Regions from separate parts of the Homo sapiens genome. Here region 2 is linked to region 1. The links come from fine-mapping of genetic effects on gene expression. A gene starts in region 1. The other region holds a variant in brackets. All regions are shown on one strand. Distances are between the middles of the regions. Region 1 holds the start of IRAK2 (interleukin 1 receptor associated kinase 2). Region 2 overlaps IRAK2 (interleukin 1 receptor associated kinase 2).

What was found.
Region 2: its variant is fine-mapped to the expression of IRAK2 in monocytes after LPS (Quach 2016, PIP 0.95).

What each region holds. Positions count from the first base shown.
Region 1 is chr3:10,156,759-10,172,550 of GRCh38, reverse strand. It overlaps IRAK2 (interleukin 1 receptor associated kinase 2), which reads right to left and starts at 7,632. Exons shown (of 13, transcript NM_001570.4): 1 at 7,503-7,632. The coding sequence starts at 7,596. RefSeq lists an enhancer at 3,054-3,564 and silencers at 7,318-7,467, 7,668-7,797.
Region 2 is chr3:10,219,159-10,234,950 of GRCh38, reverse strand. It overlaps IRAK2 (interleukin 1 receptor associated kinase 2), which reads right to left. Exons shown (of 13, transcript NM_001570.4): 8 at 15,162-15,271; 9 at 12,120-12,315; 10 at 8,518-8,580; 11 at 292-492. Among named protein-coding and RNA genes, the nearest start is that of TATDN2, 21 kb to the left of the region's middle. RefSeq lists enhancers at 241-843, 8,640-8,689, 8,865-9,647 and a silencer at 8,232-8,526. The variant TG/G (reference allele first, on the strand shown) is at 8,005.

The DNA of each region.
Region 1 (15,792 bases):
TTTTTTTTTTTTTGAGTCGGAGTTTTACTCTTGTTGCCCAGGCTGGAGTGCAATGGCACATGTCAGCTCACTGCAACCTCCACCTCCCAGGTTCAAGCAATTCTCCTGCCTCAGCCTCCCGAATAGCTGGGATTACAGGCGAGTGCCATCACACCTGGCTAATTTTTTGTTTGTTTGTTTTTTTGAGACGGAGTCTCGCTCTGTCGCCCAGGCTGGAGTGCAGTGGTGCGATCTCTGCTCACTGCAAGCTCCACCTCCCAGGTTCACACCATTCTCCTGCCTCAGCCTCCTGAGTAGCTAGGACTACAGGCGCCTGCCACCATGCCCGGCTAATTTTTTTTTTTAGTAGAAACGGGGTTTCACTGTGTTAGCCAGGATGGTCTCAATCTCCTGACCTCATGATCCACCCACCTCAGCCTCCCAAAGAGCTAGGATTACAGGCATGAGCCACCGCACCTGGCCAATTTTCATATTTTTAGTAGGGACAGAGTTTCACCATGTTGGCCAGGCTGGTTTCGAACTCCTGACCTCGTGGTCCTCCCACCTTGGCCTCCCAAAGTGCTGAGATTACAGCCGTGAGCCACTACGCCCAGCCCATCTCTACTGAAAATGCAAAAACTAGCAGAGTGTGGTGGCGGGCGCCTGTAGTCCCAGCTACTCTGGAGGCTGAGGCAGGAGAATCACTTGAACCCAGGAGGCCGAGGTTGCAGTGAGCTGAGATTGCATCATTGGACTCCAGCCTGGGCAACAGAGTGAGACTCCGTCTCAAAAAAAAAAAAAAGGCTGGGTGCAGTGGCTCACGCCTGTAATCCAAACACTTTGGGAGGCTGAGGCGGGCGGATCACGAGGCTGGTCTCAAACTCTTGGCTTCAAGAAATTTTCCCACCTAGGCCTCCCAAAGTGTTGAAATTAGAGGCGTGAGCCACTGCACCTGGCCTGAAAATGTTTTTATCCCTGATGATTAACAGTACAGGGACTATCACTCTTGAGTTCCTGAATCCTGCAGGAGTTCACCCGAGGCAGTAGAAAACCTTGCCTGTCTTCAAAGTCCTCCACAGCAGGGATGGCACAGCCTCCTGAAATGACCCATCTTAGAATCGAATGCCCACACCCCTCCCTGGGTGGGGGATGAGGAAAGCCCTAACTTGACCCTTTACAATAAGCTGAGTCTCCTAAGCCTCTCAGCAACACTGTGAGGGTGCTTCATGGATGAGGAAACTAAAGGCTCAGAGAGAGATAGTCACCTGCCTGATGTCACACAGCTGGGCAGGGCAAAGCAGGGCTGTGCACAAAGGCTGGCACACGCATGAGTGAACGAGACGGGGAACGGCCACACACAGAAGAGCCCCTGCGCCGAGCCCCTCTGCACACACCTGGGGCTGAAGCTGTAGGAAACCCTTTTTACACAGGCTCAGGCAAAGCCCAACAGAGGCAGCTGCCATCACGGAGACAAGAACTAGGCGTGGCCAGATTATCTGCCAACAAGTGTCGGATCTGAAAGAGCGTGGCTGTCTGTGGCTGCGGGATCTTCTGAATCACTTTAGCGTTCTCACTACACTCTCCCAGTATCACCATCAGCTCTGAGGGACTGTCTTCTTTCTAAAATGACCCACAGGAAGCCAAGAATTTTTAGGACTGAAGGGTCAATCACAGTCACTCGTTCATTCAGCTGAAGAGGGAACTGGAGCACTGGGACTGGGCGAGGAGCAGTGGGCCGGAGGCACCGCTGGCTCTGATCCAGTGTAGGAAGTGGGCTGACCAAAGGCTCCAGGCCAGCTCCAATGGGTAAGAGTGGGCAGCCCGCATCCTCACCACACCAAGGCCTGGCAGCTCATCATTCATTCTGGCACCTGCCCTCTAGCCAGGCACTGTCCCAGGCTCTGGGAATACAGCAGTGAAAAACTAGACAGGTAAGGCCCCTGCCCGCACGGGGCTTCCATTCCATAGGGAGAGACAGGTGGAAAAAATTCAGGAACGAGGGGACATCAAAGGCTGTGAAGCGGAATGAGGGAAATGAAACACGGTGATGGGCTAGAGAGGAACAGGGGCAGGAAAGTCCTCTTGATTTCAAAGAGGTGCCACAGGAGCTTACCTGAAGGACTGTGACAGACAGAATAATACCCTTGGAAAACATCCACATCCTAAGCCCCGAGACCTGTGAATATGGTACCTTACATAGCAAAAGGGACTTTGCAGGTTAGATTAAATCAAGGATTCTGAGATGAGATTATCCTGGATTCTCTGGGTCTGGCCAAGGTAATTACCAGGGTCCCTGTAAGGGGGAGGCCAGAACATCAGATTCAGAGATGAGGTGATGGTAGAAGCAGAAGTCACAGAGACAGATGTGATGATACACACCCATGGCCTTGATGATGGAGGAAGGGGCCATAAGCCACAGGATGCTGCAGGCCTCAGGAAGCCAGTCAAGGCCAGGAGACCGACTCCTCCCTAGAGCCACCCTGAGTTAGGACTTCTGACCTCCAGAATGCTGAGATAATAAACTTGAGGTGTTACAGGCCACCAACTTTGTAGTGTTGTGGGAAGTCAGGGGCCCCGAACAGGACCGGCTGAAGCCACGGCAGAAGAATACAACTTGTGAAGATTTCATGGACATTTATCAGTTCCCAAAATTAATACTTTTATAATTTCTTACGTCTGTCTTTACTGCAATCTCTGAACATAAATTGTGAAGATTTTATGGACATTTATACTCTTATAATTTCCTATGCCTGTCTTTAATCTCTTAATCCCATCATTTTCATAAGCTGAGGATGTATGTCACCTCAGGACCCTGTGATGATTGCATTAACTGTATAAATTGTTTGTAAAACGTGTGTTTGAAAAATATGAAATCTGATTGTAAAACGTGGGTGTTTAAACAATATGAAATCAGGGCACCCTGAAAAAGAACAGAATAACAGTGATGTTCAGGGAACAAGGGAAGATAACCATAAGGTCTGACTGCCTGTGGGGTCGGGCAGAATAGAGCCATATTTTTCTTCTCACAGAGAGCCTATAGATGGACGTGTGAGTAGGAGAAATATCGCTGAATTCTTTTCCCAGCAAGGAATATTAATAATTGATAACCCTGGGGAAGGAACGCATTCCCGGGGTAGGTCTATAAATGGCCACTCTGGGGGTGTCTGTCTGATGCAGTTGAGATAAGGGATGAAATATGCCCTGGTCTCCTGCAGTGCCCTCAGGCTTACTAGGATTGGGAAATTCCAGCCTGGTGAATTCTAGTCAGACGGGTTGTCTGCTCTCCAACCCTGTTTCCTGTTAAGATGTTTATCAAGACAATGCGTGCCCAGTGGGACATGGACCTTCACCAGTAATTCTAATTTCACCTTTGCCTTGTGATCTTTTATTGCCCTTTGAAGAATGTGATCTCTGGGACCTACTCCCTATTCGTACACCCCTCCCCTTTTGAAATCCCTAATAAAAACTCGCTGGTTTTGTGGCTCGGGGTCACCATCACGGTCCTACCAATGTGTAACAGCACCCCCAGAGGCCTAGATGTAAAATTTCTCTCTTTGTACTCTTTATTTCTCAGACCGGCCGACACTTAGGGAAAATAGAAAAGAACCTACATTGAAATACTGCGGGCTGGTTCCCCTGATATTGTAGTAATCTATAACTGCAACAGGAGGAAACTAATAGACTAGAAAGCTAGCCCCAGGTAACACAGGGGGAAGAACGTCCCAGGCAGAGGGAACAGCACCTGCAAAGACCCTGTGTCTGGCCCAGGGAGGTCAGTGTGGCTGGAGCAGGGGAGTGACAGTGGGTGTGGAAGAAGAGGAGGTCAGAGAGGCCAGCACTGGGCAGATGTGTCAGAGTCAACATGCCTGGCAAGGTGTTCAGATCATATCCATCCCAGTGGGGAGCCTCGCAGAGGTATTCTCCAAAGAAGATGTGCAAATGGCCAACAAGCACAGGAAAAGATGCTCCACAGCATTAGTCATTAGGGAAATGCAAATCAAACCACAGTAAGATGCCACTTCACACTGGCTCAGGTGGCTACCATCAAAAAAGCAACAATAAGGCCGGACATGGTGCTCACACCTGTAATCCCAGCACTTTGGGAGGCCGAGGCGGGCAGATCACCTGAGGTTAGGAGTTTGAGACCAGCCTGGCCAACACGGTGAAACCCTGTCTCTACTGAAGATACAAAAATTAGTCAGGCACGGTGGTGCATGCCTGTAATCCCAGCTACTTGGGAGGCTGAGGCACAAGAATCGCTTGAACCCAGGAGGCTAAGGTTGCAGCGAGCCGAGATCATGCCACTGCACTCCAGCCTCAGCGACAGAGCGAGACTCTGTCTCAAAAAAAAAAAAATTAAAAAAAGAAAAAAATAACACATGTTGACAAGGATGTGGAGAAATGGTCATCCTCATACACTGGTGGTTCAGCCACTTTAGAAAACATCTGGTAGCTCCTCAAATAGTTAAACATAAAGCCAGATGCAGTGGCTCACACCTGTAATCCCAGCAATTTGGGAAGGTGAGATGGGCAGATCGCTTGAGCTCCAGAGTTCAAGATCAGCCTGAGTAACATGGTGAAACCTGTCTCTACAAAAAATACAAAAGTTAGCTGGGTGCAGCAGTGCACACCTGTAGTCCAGCTACTCAGGAGACAGGAAGATCGCTTGAGCCCAGGAAGTTGGGGCTGCGGTGAGCTACATTTGCACCACTGCACAAAATCTTGTATGTGAGTGTTCACAGCAGCACTATTCACAATGGCCCAAAAGTGAAAAGAACCCAATGCCCAACAACTGATAAATGAATGAAATGTAGTATATCCATACCATGGAACATTATCCTACAATAAAAAGAAACTGGCTGGGCGCGGTGGCTCACGCCTGTAATCCCAGCACTTTGGGAAGCCGAGGTAGGTGGATTACACGGTCAGGAGATCAAGACCATCCTGGCTAACACAGTGAAACCCCATCTCTACTAAAAATACAAAAAAATTAGCCGGGCATGGTGGCAGGCACCTGTAGTCCAAGCTGCTAGGGAGGCTGAAGCAGGAGAATGGCATGAACCCAGGAGGTGGAGCTTGCAGTGAGCCGAGATTGCGCCACTGCACTCCAGCCTGGGTGACAAAGCGAGACTCCGTCTCAAAAAAAAAAAAAAGAAACTAAGTATTGACGCATGCTACAACATGGATGAACCTCATGTTAGTTGAAACAAGTCAGTCACAGAGCACTATATATTATATGATTCCATTTATATGAAATGTCCAAAATAGGCAATGTCTAAAACTCAGGAAAATGGAAGGAGGGGATTGGAAGTTAACGGGTACAGAGTTTCTTCTTCGGGTGATTAAAATGTTCTAAGATTGATTGTGAAGATGGATACACAGCCCTGTGAATATACTAAATACCACTAAATTGTACTCCTGAAACAGGTGGATTGTATGGTATGTGAATATCTCAGTAAAGCTTTATTTTTTTTTTAAGTCATAGGTATGCCTTCTAATTGAATTTCCTAGAAACAGAAGTTGTTCTGGCATTTGTAACTGAGGGCTGGGCCAATGTGGAAAAAATGAGAGGGAGTCTCACACAAAGTTTGTTCACTGCCCAGGAAACATTCAAAGTAGTGAAGCCAGGTCCAGGAGCAGTGGCTCACGCCTGTAATCCCAGCACTTTGGGAGGCCAAAGCGGCCAAATCACATGAGGTCAGGAGTTCGAGACCAGCCTGGCCAACATGGCGAAACCCCATCTCTACTAAAAACATAAAAATTAGTGGGCGTGGTGGCACATGCCTGTAATCCCAGCTACTCGGGAGGCTGAGGCAAGAGAATCACTTGAATCCAAGAGGCGGAAGCTGCAGTGAGCCGAGATCTCGCCACTGCATTCCAGCCTGGGCCACAGAATGAGACTGTCTCAAAAAAATAAAAATGAAAAGAGAATATTACAACTTATGACTTATAAGAATATTTAACACTTAGGTGTCAGTGCTTTTATACAGTATTTTCATTCCTCACAACTTTATGAAGAAGCTATAATTATCATCTCCAGTTTACATACAGATTCAGAAGCTGAGGCTCAGAGAGGTTAACAAACTGGCCCAAAGTCATACAGCAAGAGCCTGGAATGCAGATCTCCACCTGGAAAGCAGAGACAACAGGCAAGCGGCCTCCCCGCAGAGTCCATGGCCCTCTCCGCCAGTCATCCGTCAGGCACCAACAAACAAAACATATGGAGGCTGTCTGAGTGCCTTCCCACGGAATTATCTAGAACTGTGCACCTTGCAATAGAGTGAAAGTAAGTGCTTGTGCTTAGGCCCCATTATACACACTGAATCTATTAGGACACATCTGATCTCAAAACAGGTTGATAGTCATAAATACTGTGATCAAAACAATGTACACTAAAAGTAAATATCTGATTTTAAAACTATAATGGTAAAGTACATTTAATCACAAATATGATAAATAGGCTGGGCACAGTGGCTCACGCCTGTAATCCCAGCACTTTGGGAGGCCGAAGCAGGTGGATCGCCTGAGATCAAGAGTTCCGGAGGCCGGGCGCGGTGGCTCATGCCTGTAATCCCAGCACTTTGGGAGGCCCAGGGTGGGCGGATCACAAGGTCAGGAGATCCAGACCATCCTGGCTAACACGGTGAAACCCCGTCTCTACTAAGAATACAAAGTTAGCCGGGCGTGGTGGCGGGCGCCTGTAGTCCCAGCTACTCAGAAGGCTGAGGCAGGAGAATGGCGTGAACCCGGGAGGCGGAGCTTGCAACGAGCCTAGATCGCGCCACTGCACTCCAGCCTGGGCGACAGAGTGAGACTCCGTCTTAAAAAAAAAAAAAAAAAAAAAAAAAAATAGTTCAAGACCAGTCTGGCCAACATGGTGAAACCCGGTCTCTACTGAAAATACAAAAAATTAGCCAGGGTGGTAGCGGGCGCCTGTAATCCCAGCTACTCGGGAGGCCGAGGCAGGAAAATCGCTTGAATCCCAGAGGTGGAGGTTGCAGTGAGCCGAGACCGTGCCATTGCACTCCAGCCTGGGCAACAACAGCGAAACTCCGTTTCAATATATATATATATGTTAAATCATAGATCCTTCTAATATACACTAAAACTAAACACACCACACACACACACACACACACCCCCCCAAGAAGTGACAGCACCGTGGGTCCCTACAGGGTCGAGGCTCGCACTTTGCAGGCTGTTGTGGGCTGGATGAGAGGCCACCTGGGGACGTCACCGAGCCAGCAGCGCTGACAGGAGGGCCCCCGTACCCACCGTTCTCTGGACTCAGAGCGCAGTGGCGGCGGCCCCTGCTCGTCGACAGACGTCCTCAGAGACCACGCGGCACCTTCAGGTGACAGGCCGAGGTCCGCGGCGGACCCGGTCCAGGAGGCTCAGCTCGCACGCCCTCGGATCGGGACCCGCTGAACCCGGGTGCCCGAGGGAGCTTGGCGGCCGCTCCAGGCGGGATCGCTGGGGGCTCCGGTCGCCCTGGTCCCCTCCCCTCCCCGGGCCGCACTCACCGAACTCCATCCAGTCCCACTCGCTGAGCGCGTCCATGTTGCGGCACAGGTCGTCCAGCACCCAGGAGGGCAGCTGGTAGATGTAGCAGGCCATGGCACGCTACGGGGCCGGCTCCGGCGCGGGACGACTGGGTCGGACACTGCGGGCTGCGGCTTCTCTAGCCAGGGGCGGACCGGCGGGGAAGTGGGCGGGGCGGGAGGGCACCAGCGTCCCCAGCGGCCACGGGCGGCACGACGGCCCCGCCGGCTCCACCCCAGCGCCGGCCAGAGAATCGGAACTGCGAGGGGAAACTGAGGCCCTGGTGGGAGAAGGCCACACGGGAATTCTGCCGCAGCGGCAGGAGGCCTTCTGACCCCACTTCCATCGGCACTACACCATGCATCATGCGCTCATCAAATACTCCATTAATTACCTACTGTATGCCAGGCAACTCCCTAGGTGTTGGTAATACCTGAATAAGAAACCCTACAGCCGGGCGCGGTGGATCACTCCTGTAATCCCAGTACTTTGGGAGGCCGAGGCGGACGGATCACGAGGTCAGGAGTTCGAGACTAGCCTGGCCAATATGGTGAAACCCCGTCACTACTAAAAATACAAAAATTAGCCGGGCACGGTGGCGCACGCCTGTAGTCCCAGCTACCTGGGAGGCTGAGGCAGAAGAATCGCTTGAACCCTGGAGGCGGAGGTTGCAGTAAGCCCAGATTGTGCCCTTGTACTCCAGCCTGGGTGAAGAGTGAGGCTCTGTCTCAAAAAAAAAAAAAAAAAAAAAAAAAAGCCTACAAAAGCCCTTGCTTTCATAAGACTTACAATCTAGGTGTGGAGAGAAAGACTAACAATAAATAATAAATATAGTATGTTACAGAGTGTCTTAAAGGTAATAAGCACTATTGCAAAAAAAAAAAAAAAGGAAAAAAAGTTGGTTAAAGGGAATCAGGAATTCAGATTGAGCATGGGGAATATTCTATTAAATAGGGTAGTCAGGTAGACTTTACTATAGTAGCTAATATGTATCGTGCAGCTACTATGTGCCAGGCACTGTTGTAGGTGCTGGGAATACCTCTGAAGAGAAGGACAAAATCCTTGTCCTGGAGGGAGACAGACAACAAGCAATAAAAATAGGCAGATAAGCTATGTTGGAGAATGAAAGTAGAAGCCTGGGCAACATAGGAAGATCTTATCTCTACAAAAAACTTTTTTTTTTTGAGACGGAGTCTTGCTCTGTAGCCCAGGCTGGAGTGCAGTGGCGCAATCTTGGCTCACTGCAGCCTCTGCCTCCCAGGTCCCGGTTCAAGCAATTCTCCTGCCTCAGTCTCCCGAGTAGCTGGGATTACAGGCACGCGCCACCACGCCCAGCTAATTTTTGTATTTTTAGTAGAGACAGGGTTTCACTGTGTTGGCCAGGATGGTCTTGAACTCCTGACCTCGTGATCCGCCTGCCTCGGCCTCCCAAAGTGCTAGGATTACAGGCATGAGCCACCACGCCTGGCCTCTACAAAAAATTTTAAAATGAGCCAAGCATGGTAGTGTACACCTATAGTCCCAGCTACTCAGGAGGCTAAGGTGGTAGGATCTCTTGAACCCAGGAGTTTGAGGCTGCAGTGAGCTATGACTGCACTGCAGCCTGAGTGACAGAATGAGACCCTGTCTCTGAAAAAAAAAAAAAAAAAAAGAAAGAAAAGAAAGAATAAAAGTAGAGGGTGGTAAAAGGGAGTGCAAGTGGCCAATTGCATTATCTTAGATGATACTATTACTGGGAAAAAAGCAGAGTATGGTGCAGGGGACTGCAGGACAAACTGGATTATTAAATAGGGTATAAGGGGCTGGGTGCGGCGGCTCCCACCTATAACCCCAGCACTTTGGGAGGCAGAGGCAGGCAGATCGCTTGAGCCCAGGAATTCGAGACCAGCCTGGGAAACAGAGCAAGACCCTGTCTCTACAAAAATTAGCCAGGCATGGTGGCATGTGCCTGTAGTCCCAGGTACTTGGGAGGCTAAGGTAGGGGGATCACTTGAGCCCAGGAGGTGGAGATTGCAGTGAGCCAAGATTGCACCACTGCACTCCAGCCTGGGTGAGAGTGAGACCCTGTCTCTAAATAAACAAAGAGGGTACAAGGAACAGAATTTATAGTGTGTGTATACATATATATATATATATATATATATATATATATATATAAAATACACACACACATATATAAAATAGCTAGTATTTATTGAGCACTTACTATGTGTAGCCTTCACCTGGGTTACTTTACTTACTCCTTACAATGACCCTCTGAGGTAGGTATGGTTATAGCCCCATTCTACAAATAAGGAAACTAAGGCACAGAGAGGTTAAATAATATGGCTAAAATCATTTGAACCTAAGTATTCTGACCCCAGGCTCTCCATCACCACTGGCTAAAGTATATTGTAGATACAGATACATTTATCTGTATCTACAATGTACTTTGCAAAAATGATCTTATGTCATTCTTACAAGCCTATACTATAGATATTATTATCCCCATTTTACACAGAAGTAAATAGATTCCAAGAGGTTAGGCGAGGTCACGAAGGGCAGATAAGTAACTAGAGTAGGTACCACTGTATAGCTGTGGCCGTCAGCTATGGAGTAGCGCTGCAAAAGGAGGAAGCTGAAATCAAAGTGAGAAGTCCTAGGGCCAAGTTGCAGTTCTGCCACCAACAGGCTTTGTGACTCTGGACAACTCATTTCATTCGTCAAGCCTTGTTTCCAGCATCTGTAAAGTGGGCCTGCTCCTTCCTACTGCTTAGAGTTGTGAGGGGAGTGGAATAAATCAAATTATGTAGCCTATATAGAACACCTACTACAGGGCTTTCCTCGCACAGAGAATGTGCCCAAAAAATGGTAGCTGTCATTAGTGGTCTTGAAAAGGCACCCACTGGCCTTGGAGTCCTATCAAGTTTGGAGACCTGGTTCAGCCACTCTCCGGCTCTTAGTCCTTTGAGCCAGTTCTGTTTTCCCTTTTGGAAACTGGATCTCCTGCTGCAGCCACTTGGAAGGATTGTTATGAAGCCTAAATGGACTCCAAAACGCTCAAGATCAACTGTGAAGTGCTGAGCCCAGTAAAGGATTACTATTATGTCCTCCTTGATGTTGAAAGTGGGACATATTTCAGTGTTCTGAGACTACTTTTCAAGTGAAGTCCTGTGTTTTCAGCAGTGGCTGAAGGTGGACTTGGGAACTGTAATGATTGTTTGCCATAGGCTGGGTGGAGAAGCATCTCCATCCCAGGCACACGGGGGTAAAAGAGAATAAAGATCCTCTTCTTTTTCTCCTTTTCTCTTTTTGCAGAGTCCCCTACCTGCTTCTCCTTCTCTTCCGCAAGCAGCGTGTGTGTAGAGCTCCTCCCTCAGTGCCACAGGGCCTCTTCCCTGGGGTGAGGCTTTAAGACCACGGAAGTTTCACATTCAGCCTTGGTCAATCCTGGAAGGCAGAGGAGCCCCCACTGCTCTCTCTGCTGCATCCTCAGGCCCTTCCCGCAATTCCTTCTCACCCCAGCCTCAGGGCTTGGGATCTGTGTCCTAGGATTCTGTCTTCCAGAGAAGCTTGAGTCATTTTGGGCCTGAGCAGGTCATCACAGGGACACATCTCAGTTACCACTCTTTAGAATAAGTTCTTCAAAGTAAGGTCTTTGCTATTACTAATGGTTGCCCTTCACCTACCAACTCACCTAGCAGGCATTTAGCATACATTATCTGTAATCCATACAACCCTGCAAAGGTTTATTGTTTCTGTTTTACAGATGAAGAAACTGAGGCTGAAGTCAATTGTAACTGGGCCAAGTTGGCCAAGTGACAGTGAGGTAGGGGGCAGCACTCGACTCGAAAGGAATGGCTGGGACATCGGACCAAATTGAGGACTAGCTAAAACAGGTGTGGTGGGAAGTACCTCGCATAAGACACTGCCACCAGTGTACCTTGTCAGTTTACCATTGCCATGGCGACTCCAAGAAGTCACCGCCCCTTTCTAGAATGTTCTGCATAAACTGCCCCTTAATTTGCATATAATTAAAAGTGTGTATAAATGTGACTGTAGAACTGCCTCTGAGCCACTACTCTGGGCACACTGCCTATGGAGTAGCCCTACCCTGCAAGGAGCAGTACCTCTGCTGCGGCTGCACACTGCTATTTCAATAAAAGGTGCTATTTAACACCACTGGCTGGCCCTGGAATTCCTTTCTGGGTGAAGCTAAGAACCCTCCCAGGCTAAACCCCAATTTGGGGGCTTGCCTGTCCCGCATCAACAGGATGCAACTCAAGTCTGACCCAAAGCAAATGCTCTTTCTGCTGTGTTATACTGCCTCACCACAAGAAATTTCCTCTGATCTTGCAGTTAATTTCTTCCTCTGGCTATTTTCCATGACCAACACCCACCAGGATCAGTTAGAAACAGTTATTGAGGCTGAATGTAATTAATTACACACTTACGTCATTTTGAGCTGTTCAAGTTTAATTCCCTTGAAATTATAGTCAGTGGTTTGCAACCCTGGCTGCACAGTAGAAACATCTGGGGTGCTTTTAAAAAGTATAAATGCCTAGCCCTACCTCCAGGGAGACAGATTCAATTATTCTGGAGTGGGGCTCAGGCACTACTGTTTTTTAAAGCTTCCCAGATAATTCTAATATGTGCTGGCACAGTTGAGAACCAGTCATATCAGAAAGCTGGGGCAGAGGCCAAGCATGGTGGCTCATGCCTGCAATCCCAGCACTTTGGGAGACCGAGGTGGGTGGATCACTTGAGGTCAGGAGTTCGAGACCAGCCCAACCAACACGGCGGAACCCCGTTTCTACTAAAAATACAAAAAAATTCGCTGGGCGTGATGGCACGCACCTGTAATCCCAGCTACTTGGGAGGCTGAGGCAGGAGAATCATTTGAACCCGGGAGGTGGAGACTGCACTGAGCCAAGATCATACCACTGCACTCCAGACTGGGGGACACAGTGAGACTCCATATCAAAAAAAAAAAAAAAAAAAAAAAAAAAGCTGGAGCAGGAGGGAAGACTGATGAAAGGAGAATAATAAAGCTTCTCTATGCACTTTGCATATATTTTTCTTTTTTTTTCTCTCTTTTTGAGACGGAGTTTTGCTCTTGTTGCCCAGGCTGGAGTGCACTGGTGTGATCTTGGCTAACCGCAACCCCTGCCTCCTGGGTTCAAGCAATTCTCCTGCCTCAGCCTCCTGAGTAGCTGGGGTTACAGGCATGTGCCACCACACCCAGCTAATTTTGTATTTTGAGTAGATACGAGGTTTCTCCATGTTGGTCAGGCTGGTCTCAAACTCCTGACCTCAGGTGATCCACCCACCTCGGCCTCCCAAAGTGCTGGGATTACAGGCATGAGCCACCGCGCCCGGCTATATTTTTTTTTAACAAAAATATCTTTATTGGTTTCTCTGATAGCATGTGATATTTGTCAAAGACAGAAAGAAAGAGAAAACAAACACCTTCCCATAACCTCATCCCTGAGGAATCACCATTATTGTTTGGAGTATATACTCCTTTTACATGTTTTTAGTCCTATACAAAATGATTTTTTTTTTTTTTTGAGAAGGAGTCTCACTCTGTCACCAGGCTGGAGTGCAGTGGCGAAATCTCGGCTCACTGCAACCTCCGCCTACCGGGTTCAAGTGATTCTCCTGCCTTAGCCTCCCAGGTAGCTGGGACTACAGGCGCATGCCACCACACCTGGCTAGTTTTTTGTATTTTTAGTAGAGACGGGGTTTCACCACGTTGGCCAGGATGGTCTTGATCTCTTGACCTCGTGATCTGCCCACCTCGGACTTCCGAAGTGCTGAGATTACAGGCGTGAACCACCGTGACTGGCCAATTTTTTAAACATATTTTCTTTTTTGCAGACACTATGGTGAAAAAAAAATTTTTTTAACATTTAATTTTCTGTTTTTTTTTCAATTAATAGCTTTTCCTGTCATTATATGAGCATAGTACTATTTCCCTTTTAATGGCTTATTTAGGAACACCATACTATATGTGCCCAAACTCCTATCAGTATACTTTTATTTCCAGTATTATGCTATTCTAAATAATACTGCAGCAAACTTCATATACATACATCTATTCACACTTGTTTTTTCTTTCTTAAGGTAAATTCCTAAAACTAGATTTTCTGGAGCAAAGATGAACATCTAAAATTGTGATGGGCTGGGTGCCATGGCTCATTCCTGTAATCCAAACACTTTGGAAGGCCAAGGAGAGAGGACTGCCTGAGCCCAGGAGCCCAGCCTGGACAACATAGTGAGACCCCATCTCTGTTAAAAAATGGCTGCGTGTAGTGGCTCACACCTGTAATCCCAGCATTTTGGGAGGCCGAGGCAGGCGAATCACCTGAGATCAGGAGTTCAAGACCAGCCTGACCAACATGGAGAAATCCTATCTCTACTAAAAATACAAAATTAGCTGGGCGTGGTGGCGCATGCCTGTAATCCCAGCTACTCGGGAGGCTGAGGTAGGAGAATCACTTGAACCCAGAGGCGGAGGTTGCAGTGAGCCAAGATCCTGCCATTGTACTCCAGCTTGGGCGACAAGAGCAACACTCTGTCTCAAAAAAAAAGAAAAGGAGGCCGGGCGCGGTGGCTCACGCCTGTAATCCCAGCACTTTGGGAGGCAGAGGCGGGCGGATCACGAGGTCAGGAGATCGAGACCATCCTGGCTAACACGATGAAACCCCGTCTCTACTAAAAAATACAAAAAAATTAGCCGGGCGTGGTGGCGGGCGCCTGTAGTCCCAGCTACTCGGGAGGCTGAAGCAGGAGAATGGCGTGAATCCAGGAGGTGGGGCTTGCAGTGAGCCCAGATAGCGCCACTGCACTCCAGCCTGGGTGACAAAGTGAGACGCTGTCTCAAAAAAAAAAAAAAAAAGAAAGAAAGAAAGAAAAAAAAAAAGAAAAAAGGCAAAAAAAAGCACAAACAAAAAAACAGAAACAAACAAAAAAAATTTTAAGAAAAACAAACATAAGGCCAGGTGTGGTGGTGCATGCCTATCTATAATCTCAGCACTTTGGGAGGCCAAGGCGGGAGGACTGCCTGAGCCCAGGTGTTCAAGAGCAGCCTGGGCAACATGACAAGACCCTGTCTCTATTATAATTTAAAAAATAAAAATTTCAGCCAGGTGTGGTGGCTCATGCCTGTAATCCCAGCACTTTGTGAGGCCAAGGCGAGCAGATCACTTGAAGTCAGGAGTTCGAGACCAGCCGGCCAACATGGTGAAACCCTGTCTCTACGAAAAATATTAAAAATTAGACAGGCATGGTGGCGTGCACCTGTAATCCCAGCTACTCAGGAGGCTGAGGCAGGAGAATTGCTTGAACCCAGGAGGTGGAGGTTGCAGTGAGCTAACGCCACTGCACTCCAGCCTCAGCAACACAATGAGATTCTCTCTCAAGAAAAAAATTAAAAAAAAAAAAAAGTGGCTACTCTTTCTCTCTCAGAAAGATGAGTAAACCTCTATCCTATCCTATTCTTTTTACCTTTTTTTTTTTTTTTTTTTTGGTAGAGACGGAGGTCTCACTATGTTGCCAAGGCTGGTCTCAAACTCTCCTCCAGTGATTCTCTAGCCTCAGCCTCCCAAAGCGCTGATATTGCAGGTGTGAGCCACAGCGCCTGGCCCCCTATCCTTTTTAATGGCTTATTTAGGAGTGCCATACTTAATTTGGGCAATCTCCCATACATGTACATTTATTTCCAATACTGGAGTCTGTTCCAGAGGGATCTGCTTTCTGCATCTATCAGGGGGGTGGAAATCCTGGAGGCTGCCAAGTATAAACGAGTATTTGGAAAACAGCTGCCCCAGAGGCACACTAGACCTTCTCAAAATCCTCCCTACTGCTTGGAGTTGCTCCACGCCAGGGTAATCCAGACCTGCTGGAACAGCCCTGATACGGTTTGGCTGTGTCCCCCCCAGATCTCATCTTGAATTGTAATCCCCATATATCATGGGAGGGTTTAATCAAATCATGGGAGGTAATTTTCCCCAGGCTGTTCTCATGATGGTGACAGAGTTTTCTTTTTTTTTTTTTTTTTTGAGACGGAGTCTTACTCTATCGCCCAGGCTGGAGTGCAGTGGCACAACCTTGGCTCACTGCAAGCTCCGCCTCCCAGGTTCAAATAATTCTCTGCCTCAGTCTCCCGAGTAGCTGGGATTACAGGCACCCGCCACCACGCCTGGCTAATTTTTGTATTTTTAGTAGAGACAGGGTTTCACCACCTTGGCCAGGCTGGTCGTGAACTCCTGACCTTGTGATCCACCCACC
Region 2 (15,792 bases), 62 kb before region 1:
GGAAGGGGCCTATAGAGAAGGGGGAATAAAGCCGATTCACAGAGAGTTCATCGAGTTCAGTTAACATCCACGGGTTTGGTCCTGCGCCCTGAGGCCCTGCAATACCCGTCCTCGGGCTCCGCACTATCCATCCCTACACCGCCCTTTGGCTGATGGGAGCTCTAGGAGGTTCTGCGGCTTGCAAGCAAGCACAACCCTGGTTTGTGCACCAGGCCTCTGCGAAGGGGCCGTCCCCGATGAGGTGGACCCACGCGTGGCCCAGGCAGCGAGGCCGCTGCGGGCGAGGCTCACCTCCTGCAGGCTGGTGTTACGCCTCCGCAGGCACAGGCAGGCAGCCGTGGCCAGGGCCTCGGCGCAGTCCTCCGGAAGCCTCCCTGCGCCCTTCTCCAGGTACTTCTGGCAGATCTCCTTTGCCATCACGTTCTCCACGCCCGTCTTCCTGGAGCAGAGCGAGGCGGTGCTGCTTGGAATATCACTGAGGAGTAAGTCCTTCTGTGGGAAGAAGGGTAGAAACGCCCTTGCGTGAGCTGCAGAGCTGCGAGAGCCAACGCACGCGCCCCACTCACCTCCAGAGCTGCAAAAAATGCTCAGAAAACCGACCGGACATCGTAAGAATAAATGCAAGGATTCCAGAAAGAAGTAAAACCCCCAAGAAATGGAGAAGGATTCGATTTCCTACATGCACAGGGCACTCCATAGTGAACTCATGCCACAAACGTGGGGCCTTAATTTTTCTAGGCCTCGGTTGGTTCATCAGGAAAATGGGAACAACAAAAATACCTACACCAGGGCCGGGCGCAGTGGCTCAAGCCTGTAATCTTAGCACTTTGGGAGGCAGAAGCGAGTGGATCACTTGAGGTCAGGAGTTCGAGCCAGCCTGGCCAACAGGGCGAAACCCCGTCTCTACTAGAAATATAAAAATTAGCTGGGCTTGGTAGTGCACGCCTGTAATCACAGCTACTAGGGCGGCTGAGGCAGAGGAATTGCTTGAACCTATGGTGGGGGAGGTGGGGGGCGGAGGCTGCAATGAGCTGAGATCACGCCACTGCACTCCAGCCTAGGTGACAGCGAGATTCTGTCTCAAAAAAATAATAAAATACCTACACCTAGGACTAACACAACCATTCAATGAAACAGTGCACCTAAAGCACAGAGAGTGACATCTGACACGGAACATTCAATAGTCTTTTAGTGATAATAACTAATAGTAATAATAGCTACCATTTATATGGCACTTACTACATGATAAGCACTTAATAATTTAATCTTATTAACTACATGGACAATCTCTTATGATACAAACATTTCAAATGTAGGATTCTGACCTATATACATAACAGGAGAGCCACTATAAAGAAAATATTATGTCTATACTTCTTATACATTTTGTATTTACATATATTTTATATTTTGTACCACATAAAATGCAGCAATCTGAACTATGCATACAATAGAACATATGCTATATAATAATTTTATACAAATATGTAAGCATATTTAATATAAATTATATTGTATATTTCATGAGTAATATGGTATATATGATTAGCATATATGAATGTTACAAACATACTAAATATTGTAAAAACATGTATTGTAGGCCAGGTGCGGTGCCTCATGCCTGTAATCCCAGCACTTTGCGAGGCCGAGACTGGCAGATCACTCGAGGTCAGGAGTTCGAGACCAGCCTGGCTGACACGGTGAAACCTCGTCGCTACTAAAAAATACAAAAAATTAGCCGGGCATGGCGGTGCGTGCCTATAGTCCCAGGTACTCGGGAGGCTGAGGTAGGAGAATTGCTTGAACTGGGGAGGGAGAGGCTTCAGTGAGCCAAGATTGCGCCACTGCATTCCAGCCTGGGCGACAGAGTGAGACTCCGTCTCAAAATATAAATAAGAAATAAAAATAAAAATAGGCCGGGCACAGTGATATAATCACAGCTCACTACAGTCTCAACCTCCTCGATTCAATCGATCCTCCCACCTCAGCCTCCCAAGTAGCTGGGACTATAGGCACATGCTACTGTACTTGGCTAATTTTTAAATTTTTTGTAGAGATGGAGTCTCATTATGTTGCCCAGGCTGGTCTTGAACTCCTGGGCTCAACTAATCCTCCTGTCTTGGCATCTCAAAGTGCTCAGATTATAGGTGTGAGCCACTGCACCCAGCCTAAATGTTTATTTTTTTTTTAAAGTGTACTAGTGTTTAAAGCTGATAATCAAGAACAGTAGAAGTGTATTATTTTCTTCTTTTCTAGAGGCAGGGTCTCACAATTTGCCCCAAATGGAAACCTGCCATCATTGCTATGTATCTTGATGCAAAGACTATGACGATAATCAAAAAAACTACAGAAGACACCTAGTGTTTAAACAGGGGTTGGGGGACTGAGAACACGCGATGAAAGGATGTCGAGGGAACTTCACCATGGAGGAGTCGGCAGCTCCACCTGAAACCACTGATCAATCTTAGCACTAAAACCTTAACACACTGATCGGTCTTAGCACTAAAAGTAGGACAACAGGCTACGCCCCGTGTAGTGAAGCAATGGGAGGCTCACAGCGCCTCCAGGAAGTGTTCTTGACAAAGGCAATGACCATGACTCTAAACAAGTCACAAGTGCTAACTGCCAAATATAGGAAATATGAGGAATAGAGAAACAAGGGAAGGAGACCACAGGATGTAATGAGCAAAACCCAGAATGTGAGACAGTCTGTCTACATAGGGCAAATGACCTAGTCTATGCAAAAATCCAACGACATCCAAAATGAAAAAGGGCATTGCGGGAGAGGTTGTGAGAGAATAAGAGTCTTTTTGTTGTTGTTGTTGAGACGGAGTCTCGCTCTGTCGCCCAGGCTGTAGTGCAGTGGCACGATCTCGGCTCACTGCAAGCTCCGCCTCCTGGGTTCATGCCATTCTCCTGCCTCAGCCTCCCGAGTAGCTGGGACTACAGGCACCCGCCACCATGCCCGGCTAATTTTTTTGTATTTTTAGTAGAGACGGGGTTTCACCATGTTAGCCAGGATGGTCTCGATCTCCTGACCTTGTGATCCGCCTGCCTCAGCCTCCCAAAGTGCTGGGATTACAGGCTTGAGCCACCGTGCCCGGCCAAGAATAAGAGTCTTAAGAAACATAACCATGCCCGGGCGTGGTGGTTCACACCTGTAATGTCAGCACTTTGGGAGGTTGAGGCAGGCGAATGCTTAAGCCCAGGAGCTCGAAACTCGCCTGGGCAACAAAGTGACATCCCATCTCCACATAAAATTTTTTTTTAAAAATGAAAAAAACAAACATAACCAAAGTAATATATGGACATTTTTGGGGTCTAGTTTCAAACAAACCACCCTTAAAAAGCAACTTTTGGCTGGGCACGGTGGCTCACACCTGTAATCCCAACACTTTGGGAGGCCAAGGCAGGAGGATCACTTGGGCTCAGGAGTTCGAGACCAGCCTGGGCAACATGGCAAAACCCCATCTCTATTAAAAATACAAAAATTATCTGGGCCATGGTGGCACACACCTGTGATCCCAGCTACATGGGAAGCTGAGGCAGGAGAATTGCTTGAACCTGGGAGACAGAGGTTGTGGTAAGCCAAAAGCACACCACTGTACTCCAGCCTGGGCCACAGAGGGAGACTCCATTTCAAAAAAAAATTAAAATTAAACATAAGTGGTTAAAATTTGGGGACAAAAGTTTACCTTTCATTTCTACTCTCCAAAGGTAACTCCTGCTAATAGTTTGGATTATATTATTTTCTGCTATACAGCTATAATTATTTTGGTTTTATATTTACTTATATAATAATTATAACAGTATCCTAAAAGCTGTTAAAATAATAGCAATATCAGCCTGGGCAACGTAACAAGACCCCATCTCTACAAATAACAAATTAAAAATTAGCTGGGCGTGAGGGCACATGCCTGTGGTCCCAGGTACTTGGGAGGCCGCCGAGGCAGGTGGATCACTTGAGGTCAGGAGTTCAAGACCAGCCTGGCCAACATGGTGAAACCCTGTCTCTATTAAAAATACAAAAATTAGCTGGGCATGTTGGTCCATGCCTGTAATCCCAGCTACTTGGGAGACTGAGGCAGGAGAATCAATTGAAGCCAGGAGGCAGAGGCTGCAGTGAGCGGAGATTGCACCACTGTACTCCAGCCTGGGCGACAGAGCAAGACTCTGTCTCAAAATAAAAATAAATAAATAAAATAAAAATAAAAATTAGCTAGGAGTGGCGGCACGTGCCTGTGGTCCCAATTACTTGGGAGGCTAAAGCAGGGGATCACTTGAGGCCAGGGGTACAAGGTTACAGTGAGCCATGATTGCACCACTACATACTAGCCAGGGTGGCAGAGACCTTATCTCAAATAATAATGATAATACTAATAGTTAACATATATTGTTTATTATGTTCTAGTTACTATTTTAGGCATCTCACATATTATTTAACCTTCAATAAACCTGTCAGATGCCAGGCACAGTGGCTCATGCCTATAATCCCAGCTACCCGGGAGGCTAAGGTGGGAGGATCCCTTGAGCCCAGGAGTTCGAGGTGACAGTGAGCTATGATCATGCCACTGCACTCCTCCAGCCTTCGTGACAAAGAAGATAGGAGATAGGAGACCCTATCTCCAAAAATGATAACAAACAAACATACCTTGTCGGTGGGGGGGGGTACTACTATTATCCTCAATTTATAGAGAAGAAAATATGTGATACAATGTTTTCATTCATTCATCCATCTATTTTTAGCAAAAATGTGATCATACTATATACTATTCTGAATTTGCTTTGTTCACTTGGAGATATGTCCCTGTCAGAACATACATGTCTTTTTCAATTTACTTTTTTATTTTTTTGAGACAGAGTCTCACTCTGTTGCCCAGGCTGGAGTGCTGTGGCACAATCTCGACTCACTGTACTCTGCCTCCCAGGTTCAAGCGATTCTCCTGCTTCAGCCTCCTGAGTAGCTGGGATTACAGGCACTCGCCACCACACAGGGCTAATTTTGTGTTTTTAGTAGAGACGGGGTTTCACCATGTTGCCCAGGCTGGTCTTGAACTCCTGAACTCAAGTGATCCACCCACCTCAGCCTCCCAAAGTGCCGCGATTACAGCCGTGAGCCACTGTGCCCGGCCTCTTTTTCATTTTTTTAAAATAAGAATGTTTGTGTTGGCTTTATTCAGAATTGCCAAAACCTGGAAATAACCCAAATGTCCAGCAACTGGTAAATGGATAAACAGTCATCTATCCATACAATGGAATACTCTTCAGCAATGAAAAGGAATGAATTACTGACACGTCAACAACATGGATGAATCTAAGCACCATGCTACATGAAGGGGGACAGAAACAAATGGGTGCATCTGCCATGGGCCCATTGATATGACCCTCTAAAGAAGATAGAGCTATGTGGACAGAAATTAGATGAGTAATTGCCAGGACCTGTAAGTGGAGGGAATTTTCTGGGGTGACAAAAATATTCCGTATCTTGATTGTGGTGGTGGTTACATGACTGTATACATTTGTCAAAACTCATACAGGCTGGGCGCCATGGCTCACACCTGTAATCCTCACAATTTGGGAGGCCAAGATGGGAAGATCGCTTGAGCCCAGGCATTCGAGGCTGCAGTGAGCTACAATCATGCCACTGCACTCTGGCCTGGGTGACAGGGCAAGACCCCTCCCTATCTCTAAATCAAATTAAATTAAATTTGGCCAGGCGCAGTGGCTCACTCCTGTAATCCCAACACTTTGGGAGGTCAAGGTGGGCAGATCACCTGAGTGATGTCAGGAGTTCAAGACCAGCCTGGCCAACATGGCAAAACCCTGTCACTACTAAAAAAAATACAAAAATTAGCCGGGTGTGGTGATGCGCACCTGTAGTCCCAGCTACTCAGGAGGCTGAGGCAGGAGAATCTCTTGAACCCGGGGGGTGGAGGTTGCAGTGAGCCAAGATCACGCCCACTGCACTCCAGCCTGGGCAACAGAGCGAGACTCTGTCTCGAAAAAAAAAAAAATGCCACTACAAATATCCTTGTTCATCTGCCTCTCCTCACATGTGTGCATGTTTCTCTAGGCACAAATGGAACTGCCGTGTCAGAGGGTACTCATATTTTCAATTTAGGTGGAAACCACCAAATGCCCTCAGGAAACACTGTGGCAACTAACACTTTCCCAAGCCTGGAGGAGGCCTGCTTCCTCCTACCCTGGGCCACAGGAAATCAGCAAGCTTTCCTCCCTGACTCAAATCTTGATTAACCATTGGATTGCACCTACCACAACAGAACATGATAAGAGACCATACAAGAGTCTAGAATAAGAGAAAGAAACTACATTTTAAAAAATTGTTATTTTCCACATTTTTAGAAATCATTAGCAAAAAAATAATTCTAGACAACTTCCTGTCAGTGCCTCAAAAGCCTCCTTCCACTGTGACACTTGTCCGGGGAGCCCCAGAGGACTGCTGGGAAATCCATCTCAAGAAAATAGTCAGGAGATGAGAAACTGCCCCCAAACAGCCCCAAACCACATCTGAGCTGCCCAGACAGACCTCTCTGCAGCATATGGGATTGACTGCCCAAAAGGGGTGGAACTCACAGAGTTCATCAAAGGAACATGTCGTGACTTTCTGCATGGAGTAGCGAGGCCTTCAGCCTCCCTACCCCAGAGCCCAGGGGATGCTTCTGGGGCCCAGTCACCAGAAATAAATAAATAAATAAAATAATAATCTGTCTGTTCCAATGGCCTCAATACCCAGTAGGAAAAGGTGCCCCCTCTCAAACTGATGAGGAAGACTAGAGTTTGGATGAGATTTGAAACTCTGCAAAAGCCTTGGGTTCAATTTAAACCCCACTTCCACCACTGGTCTCACTGAGGGGCGTGAGACAAGTCACTTCAGCTTGCCCTCAGTTTTCTCAGCTGTAAATGGGAATGATAATACTGAATTCGTATGGTTGGACTGTCACAAGAAACAAGCAGGAGACTGCTGTGGTTAAGAACTCAAGATCCTGTAATCCCAGCACTTTGGGAGGCCGAGGCGGGCGGATCACGAGGTCAGGAGATTGAGACCATCCTGGCTAACACAGTGAAACCCCATCTCTACTAAAAATACAAAAAAATTAGCCAGGTGTGGTGGTGGGCGCCTGTAGTCCCAGCTGCTCGGGAGGCTGAGGCAGAAGAATGGCATGAACCCGGGAGGTGGAGCTTGTAGTGAGCCGAGATTGCACCACTGCACTGCAGCCTGGGCGACAGAGCAAGACTCCGTCTCAAAAACAAAAACAAAAAAAAAACTCATGATGTCGGCTCAGGGAGATCTGACTCAGAATTCCAGCTCTGACACTTGGTAATTCCAACTGAGATCCTAGGCCAAACTCAGAGCCAGCTTTCCTCATCTGCAGATGAATATAATGACTCTATCATGGAAAAATTGAGATGATTTAGGTAGATAATGTATGGAAAGTATTTAACACAAAGTCAGGCTAGGTTGTTATATTTTTATTCTTTTTTGAGAGAGGGTCTCACTCTGTCACCCAGGCTGGAGTGCAGTGGTGCAATCTTGGCTCACCGCAACCTCTGTCTCCTGGGTTCAAGCGATTCTCCTGCCTCAGCCTCCCAAGTAGCTGGGATTACAGGTGTGTGCCACTACGCTTGGCTAATTTTTGTATTTTTAGTAGAGACAGGGTTTCGCCATGTTGCCCAGGCTGGTCTCGAACTCCCAGCCTCAAGTGATCCGCCCGCCTTGGCCTCCTCCAAAGTGCTGGGATTAGAGGTGTGAGCCACCACACCCAGCCAGGTTGTTATATTTTTTAAATGACTGTGTATATCAGATCTTTGGCCTACAAAATGGAAATTGTTTTTATTATAGAAACTTGTTTAAAAGGGCTGAAATTAACTTTTATCAATTTGAGGAAAATCCCTAATGAATTGCCTGATATATAGAGAAGTGCTTTCTCTTTTATACAAGTGCTTTCTATAAACATTCCAAAATCTTTTTTTTTTTTTTTTTTT[TG/G]AGATGGAGTCTCGCTCTGTCACCCAGGCTGGAGTGCAGTGGCATAATCTTGGTTCACTGCAACCTCTGCCTCCCAGGTTCAAGTGATTCTCCTGCCTCAGCCTCCCGAGTAGCTGGGATTACAGGCACATGCGACCACACCTGGATAATGTTGGGGGTTTTTTGTAAGTTTTTTCTTTTCTTTTTTTTTAATAGAGACAGGGTTTCACCATGTTGGCCAGGCTGGTCTTGAACTCCTGGTCTCAAATGATCCACCCACATCAGTCTCCCAAAGGCTGTGATCACAGGCATGAGCCACCGCACCAAGCCCCAGATGCTATTATCATGAAAAAGCAATGGTTGGCTGGCAGGTGGGGATGGGAGGTTAAAGCTGCTTTGTGGGGATGCAAATGCAACCTTGTACCGGGCCTCATTTGCATGTGTAAAACTAGCTAGAATTGAGGTCGTTGCCCTCTCTACAGAGCTGTGAGGCCCAAATATACCTCCCAGCCAGATGTGACAAGTTCCCTTACCAGGTAAACCGGGCTTCGGTTGTTATCCATTGCAGGGATGCCCGTGAGGACCTCGGCCAACACCTGGAGAGAACAGAACGTGAGTTAGCATGGTTCAGACGCTCGTGCACACAGCCAGGCAGCAGATTCTGTCTTCTCTTCTCAGTTCTGAGCTCCAGGTGCAGCTCTGCCATTGCCAGCAGACACACCTGCCCAAAATCTGGAACATGGGAATATCACTAAACACCTCCTCCAATTAAAGATGCCACCAAGCTGCCAGTGGAAGGTTGTAATTAATTGATAGCCAGGCAGAGAAGATGGTTTTCAAAAATTCATGTGTGTGTGTGTTTATATGTATTACCATAAGATATATATAGGTATAGATAAATATAGATACACACACACGTATATATACACTATTTTTTAAAGATTGTTTCATTTAAAAATCCTTCAGCTGGCTGGGCACGGTGGATCATGCCTGTAATCCCAGCACTTTGGGAGGCTGAGGTGGGCGGATCACGTGGTCAGGAGATCGAGACCATCCTGGCTAACACAGCGAAACCCCGTCTCTACTAAAGATACAAAAAAATGAGCCAGGCGCGGTGGCGGGTGCCTGTAGTCCCAGGTGCTTGGGAGGCTGAGGCAGGAGAATGGCGTGAACCTGGGAGGTGGATCTTGCAGTGAACTGAGATCGCACCACTGCACTCCAGCCTGGGCGACAGAGCAAGACTCCGTCTCAAAAAAAAAAAAAAACACCAAAAAACCTTCAGCTATGGCAAGCAGGCATTGCTCTGTGAATCTCAGGGAAGGAAAGACTCTGCATGCAGGCAGGTATCTATTCTAGACAAATCTTGCAGCATCCATAGCATGTTTCACTCACAGGCCTTTACTAACATTATTTATTCATTAGCGCATCCACTCGCAGAAGGAGCACAACCCTGTATACGTGTAAGTCACCACAAAATTGGCAAACCATGATATATGTCTTCATAAACAGGAAACTGCTTTGAACAGGGTTTCTCAGTAGAGACAATGCTATGATGGCTAAGGGCTCTACAGTCAGGCCTGAGTTCAAATTCTGACTCTGTTCCTTATATGCTCAGGTGATCTTTAGGCAAGTAACTAAAACCTGAGCCTCAGTGTCCTCATCTGTTAAATGGGGACTAGCAGTTGTGAATATTAAAGGTGTGAAGACCCCACACTTAGTGTGGAACCTCTCTCCCACAGCATCTCTCAAAGCAAGTCAGAATAGGGTCACATTTATAGCCAAGAATCCCTCCAAGCCTGGAGGAAGGAAAGGATAAAGGTTTTAAACCACCCAGGATTAATAACAGACTGGCAGTGACCAGAAAAGGGCAGCAGAGGGCATCACTGCTGCAAGTGGGACAGGAGCCAATTGAAAAGGGACTCCTGACAGGTCCCTGCCAGGAAGGGACAGAACAAGGGGAAATGAATAAACAAAGACTTCCTGTGCCCCTTTCACAGAGCAGGCTCTGAGCCAAGTCCTTTATAGAGGTCACTGAGCACTCACCAAAAAACACTGAGCAATGCACTGTGATCCCCACAGGAGGAATCAAAGTTCAAAAGCGTTATCAGTCAACCAGAGGCAGGGCTGAGCAAAAGGGTGGCAGGAGCCAGGAGGCATTCAATGAATGAATGGATGGATGGGTGGTAGATGGATGGATGGATGGATGGATGGATGGATGGATGGATGGATGGATGGATGGGTATGTGGGTGGGAGGGTGGGTGCATGGGTGGATGAATAGATGGATAGGTGGGAGGGTGAATGGATGGATGAGGAAGTCATCTGTGACGCTAACACACCAGTTAGAAGGTCAAGAGTAAACAGATATCAGAAGGAGGGTGTAAAGGTGGGAATAACAATAACCACAGTCATCATAATATTCTTGGTAGGTGCAGGGTGCAGGGTGCCATGCTCACCTGCTTATATACATTATCCCATTCATCTCCATGTGTATCGTTAGCCCCATCTTACAGAAGGCTTAACTGAGGCCCAGAGACAGAAGTGCTAGGTGTAAGTCACACAGCTGAAAGTAACTGAGCCGGGCCTAGGGGTTCTATCCCCCTGGTTCTTTTTTTTCTTTTTTTTTTTTTTTGAGACAGAATCTTGCTCTGTTGCCCAGGCTGGAGTGCAATGGCGCGATCTCGGCTTACTGCAACCTCTGCCTCCCAGGTTCAAGTGATTCTCCTGACTCAGCCTCCCAGGTAGCTGCGATTACAGGCACATGCCACCACACTCAGCTAATTTTTGTATTTTTAGTAGAGCCGGGGTTTCACCATGTTGGCCAGGTTGGTCTTGAACTCCTGACCTCAGGTGATCTGCCCACATCGGCCTCCCAAAGTACTGAGATTTTAGGCATGTGCCACCACTCCCTGCCCATCCCCCTGGTTCTTAAAGGAGAAGGAGCCTGGACTAGCCCTGCTGAGCTTCACTGAACAACTTGCAGTGGGGCTGAGGGAGGCAGAGGAACCAGCTGGGAGACACGGAGGTGCAGAATCTGGGGTTCTGGCTGAGGGCAGAGGTGACTCAGGGCCACGGTTCTGGTAGCAGAGGTAGACAGACAGGAGACTGTGGTCAGAGAGAGGAAGTACAGAGTTCAAGGCTAGAGAAGAAAAGAGGGTGAGGCCCAAGGGGCAGCTGTATGCACTTGGCTGAAGCCAACCTGACTGTTACTCTTCTCAGCCAGCATTTCCCAGACTGGGTTCCATGGAACACTGACAAGGACAGATATTCTGAGAACACAAGGTTCCATAGTCAAATGAGCTTGGGAAACACTGCATACCCCTCTCTGGTGAATTCACAAGTACCAGATTAAAGGCTCACTACCATTCAACCAGCTTGAATTAATCTTGTGGTAAAGAAACCTGCTTGACTTTGCCTAATGCAATATTTCCAAGCCTGTCAGGGCACAAACCCTTTTAACACATCAATCCTAGAGGTCCGAAGGAACTGGAGTTCTACAGAAATATACTTTGGAGACTGCTACATGCAGACCATGAGCTCCTGAGGGGAGGGACTGTGTTTTTGTTACATTCATATTCCTAGTGCCTGGCACGACATAATGGCAGACAAGGATGGTGGTGGTGGTAGGGTGGGATGCTGGGTGGGTCAGTGGTCGCTGAATGGATGGGCAGCTAAAGGGTAGATGGATGATCGGACAGCGATGAACAAATAAGGACAAATAGACAACTGGATGGACAAGTGGATGGCTGGATGGGAATTACGGAAGTCAGGAGAGGATATCTGGAGCCTACTAGAACCTGGACACTCATGAGTGGTTTTCCTTCAAGGGCTGGCAAATTTCTTCTGTAACACGCCACACAGTAAATATGTGAGCTTTTGGGGAGCATGTTCAGTCTCTATCACATATTCTTTGTGTTTAAAAATATAATCCTTTATAAATGTAAAACTACCCTTAGCTCACAGACCATACAAAATACGCCACAGGCCAAAGTGGCCTGTGGGCCACAGTTTGTCAGCCCCTGTTGTACTTTGATGGAACCTGTCTGTGTGCCTCTACCGTATCCTGTGATTACAAAGGAGCCGTGGGAAGGACAAATCAAGGTGGGCCCCACTCTACGCAGAGCAGGACACTCTTACTATTCCACAGCTGAAGATGTCCACTCGCTTTGTCAGCTGCCCCACCCGGATGAAATCCTCTGGCAGATACGCGGCTGACGTCCGGAGCAGGTGAGTCTTCATCATGGTGTATTTTGACCTTTTGTTGACAGGACACAGATGAGCCATTGGGTGAGCAAGTTTGGGGGTGAGATTTTGGTCCAGCAAGACATTAGAGCTGTGGAAATGAAAGGAGAGGGAACCTTCTCATTTTGAGCTGGATAACAACAAGTTGCCATGGAGACCCTTTGGGGAGACAATATAGCAACCTCACCTCCTGCAAGTTGAGGTCTCTAAAGACCCTCAGCATGGAGCTTCTGAGCCAGCCCTGACTGGGGAAGAGAGGGCATCAGGAGCACACTCCCTCCAGCAAATGGAGATGGAGTTCAGACTTAGTCTTGCTGCCCCAGGAATGTGGCCAAAGTGCAGCCTCCCTGATCCCCACAGATGCCAACCCTGATCAGCCTCAGCTTGCCACGCCTACAGGCTGTGCAGACTCAGTCTCTTCCACAACTGTTCCAACCCCCAGCTCTGGCCTGGCTGACTCAGGTCTAAGTGGCCAGCATCCTTTGTGACTAAACCTGCCCAGATCATGTAAAAAAAGAAAGAAAAAAAAATTCCCTCTTGGCCGGGCACAGTGGCTCACGCCTGTAATCCCAGCACTTTGGGAGGCCGAGATGGGCAGATCACCTGAGGTCAGGAGTTCAAGACCAGCCTGGCCAGCATGCCGAAACTCCATCTCTACTAAAAATACAAAAATTAACCAGCCGTGGTGGTGTGCGCCTGTAGTCCCAGCTACTCAGGAGGCTGAGGCAGGAGAATTGCTTGAACCCGGAAGCAGAGGTGCACTCCAGCCTGGGCAACAGAGTGGTACACTGTCTCAAAAAAAATCATTTGATCTAGTCATCTAACCCCCAGGAGCAAACACTGAGAACATACTCCAAAATGGGAAAAAGCTAAGCCACATGTGTACAGATATATAGTGCAGGCCAGGTGCAGTGACTCATGCCTGTAATCCCAACACTTTGTGAGGCCGAGACAGGAGGATCACCTGAGCCCAGGAGTTTGAGACCAGCATGGGCAGCATGGCAAGACCTCATCTCTACTAAAACAAACAAATTCAGCACGGCATGGTGGTGCGTGCCTGTGGTCCCAGCTACTTGGGAGGCTAAGGTGGGAAGCTGCGGTGAGCTGAGATTGCGCCACTGTACTCCAGCCTGGGCAAAAGAGCAAGGCCCTGTCTCAAAAAAAAATTTTTTTTGGCCAGGCGCGGTGGCTCACACCTGTAATCCCAGCACTTTGGGAGGCCAAGGTGGGTGGATCACGAGGTCAGGAGATCGAGACCATCATGGCTAACACAGTGAAACCCTATCTCTACTAAAAATACAAAAAGTTAGCCGGGCATGGTGGCAGGCGCCTGTAGTCCCAGCTACTCTGGAGGCTGAGGCAGGAGAATGGCGTGAACCTGGGAGGCGGAGCTTGCAGTGAACAGAGATTGTGCCACTGCACTCCAGCCTGGGCCACAGAGCGCGACTCCATCTCAAAAAAAAAAAAAAAAAAAAAAATTTTTTTTTTTGGTATTTTTAGTAGAGACGAGGTTTCACCGTGTTAGCCAGGATGGTCTCGATCTCTTGACCTCGTGATCTGCCCGCCTTGGCCACCCAAAGTGCTGGGATTACAGGCGTGAGCCACCGCGCCCGGCCAAAAAAAAAACTTTTTTAGCGTGTGTGTGTGTGCACGCCCGCAAATGCACGGGTGTGTGTGCCAGGAGTGGTTAAGTAAATTATGGGCAAATTCCTTCACGGGAAGACTAAGACACTAAAAAACATGACGGTATACAATGTAGCGAAATGTTTACTATGTTTAAATGAAGGGGTAAAAAACAGGATGTGAATTGGTACCCAGGTGCTACCTCAGGACTAAGGATTTGTATAGGCAGGAAGTGAAAAAAGAAACAAAACCTAGAGGCCAGCTGATGAGTCATGGGGTAGGTTAGTGGTGACCTCTCTCACCCTTTCATTTCCTTGCCTGCTATTAGAATTATTGATGCAATCAAATAAAAATTAGGGGAGAGAGCCGGGGTGGTGGCTCTCACCTGTAATCCCAGCACTATAGGAGACCAAGGCGGGTGGATCACCTGAGGTCAGGAGTTCGACACTAGCCTGGCCAACATGGTGAAAGCCTATCTACTAAAAATACAAAAATTAGCTGGGTGTGGTGGCGAGCACCTGTAATCCCAGCTACTCAGGAGGCTAAGGCAGGAGAATCGCTTGAACCAGGGAGGTGGAGGTTGCAGTGAGCTGAGATCGCACCACTGCATTTCAGCCTGGGTGACAAGCGTGAAACTCCGTCTCAAAAAACAAAAAAAAAATTGGGGGAGAGAAAAGAGGAAAGGACTTCCACAAGTCAAATGGAAAGAGAACTTTGGGGAAATACGAGTTCTGTGTCTCTGGAGCCAGTTCTGCCAGATATTCTGGTATCTTCGGAATCCCTCCCTATCCTAACCGTCTCCAGATGGGGACCTCTCCCTCTCATGTGCATGGCACTGACATGCAGGGGTGCAGGCCTAACCTGCAGGAGCCTTCCAGACAAGATGCTAACACCAACAGCTACACAAGAAGGGGACAGGTCTCAGAAAAGACACTGAACGAGGAGCTCAAAATCCCAGGGGGTTGGCAGACATGGCCCAAAGTTCGAGGATGAGGTCCAGGCCAGCTGCTGAGTGGACAGTGCGACGCAGCAAGGTGTGGAGGGCTTGTTGGGAAAACAGCAGCTCAGAAAGACAAATGTGACAGGTAGGCAATTCATCCTGAGAGCAATTGGACTTGGAGCACAGCCCGGAAACACTCATTTTTGAGGGCATAACAGAGAAAAAGACATCCAGGGGAGGGCAGAGGAGAGGAGGTAGGAAGAGAAAAACAAAGAGGACAGGGGTGAGTGGCGGAGCGGGAGGTGAGCCAGGAATAGGCACCAGTTCCACCCTTGCAGCCCAGGCCCCAGCAGGGTCCAGCCCACCTCTCTCACCTCTTGACGTTGCTGTGGATGATCTCCAGACCATGCAGGTACTCGACGGCACAGAGCAGCCCTGAGCAGATGCTGACACGCTGGGGCCAGGGGAGGGGGTCCGAGCCACCCTAAGAGAAAGAAAAGCAGGAGGACAAATAGTCACAATGTACCTTTTTAAAGTCCTGATGGCAGCCAGGTGCGGTGGCTCACACCTGTAATCCCAGCACACTGGGAGGCCCAGGCAGGCAGATCACTAGTTCAGGAGATCGAGACCATCCTGGCTAACACGGTGAAACCCCATCTCTACTAAAAATACAAAAAATTAGCCGGTCCTGGTGGCGGCTGCCTGTAGTCCCAGCTATTTGGGAGGCTGAGGCAGGAGAATGGCGTGAACCCAGGAGGCAGAGCTTGCAGTAAGCCGAGATTGCACCACTGCACTGCAGCCTGGGTGACAGAGCGAGACTCCATCTCAAAAAAAAACAAAAACAAAAACAAAAAAACGAAGTCCTGATGGCAGGGTCCCAGGCTCCTGATCCTCCTCCCACCCTTCATGTCCTCTGTCACAGGGCTCAGCATGATACTGTGAGTTTTTTCATTGTTTTGTGTTTGCTGGTTTTGAGACAGGTCTTGCTCTGTCACCCAGACTGGA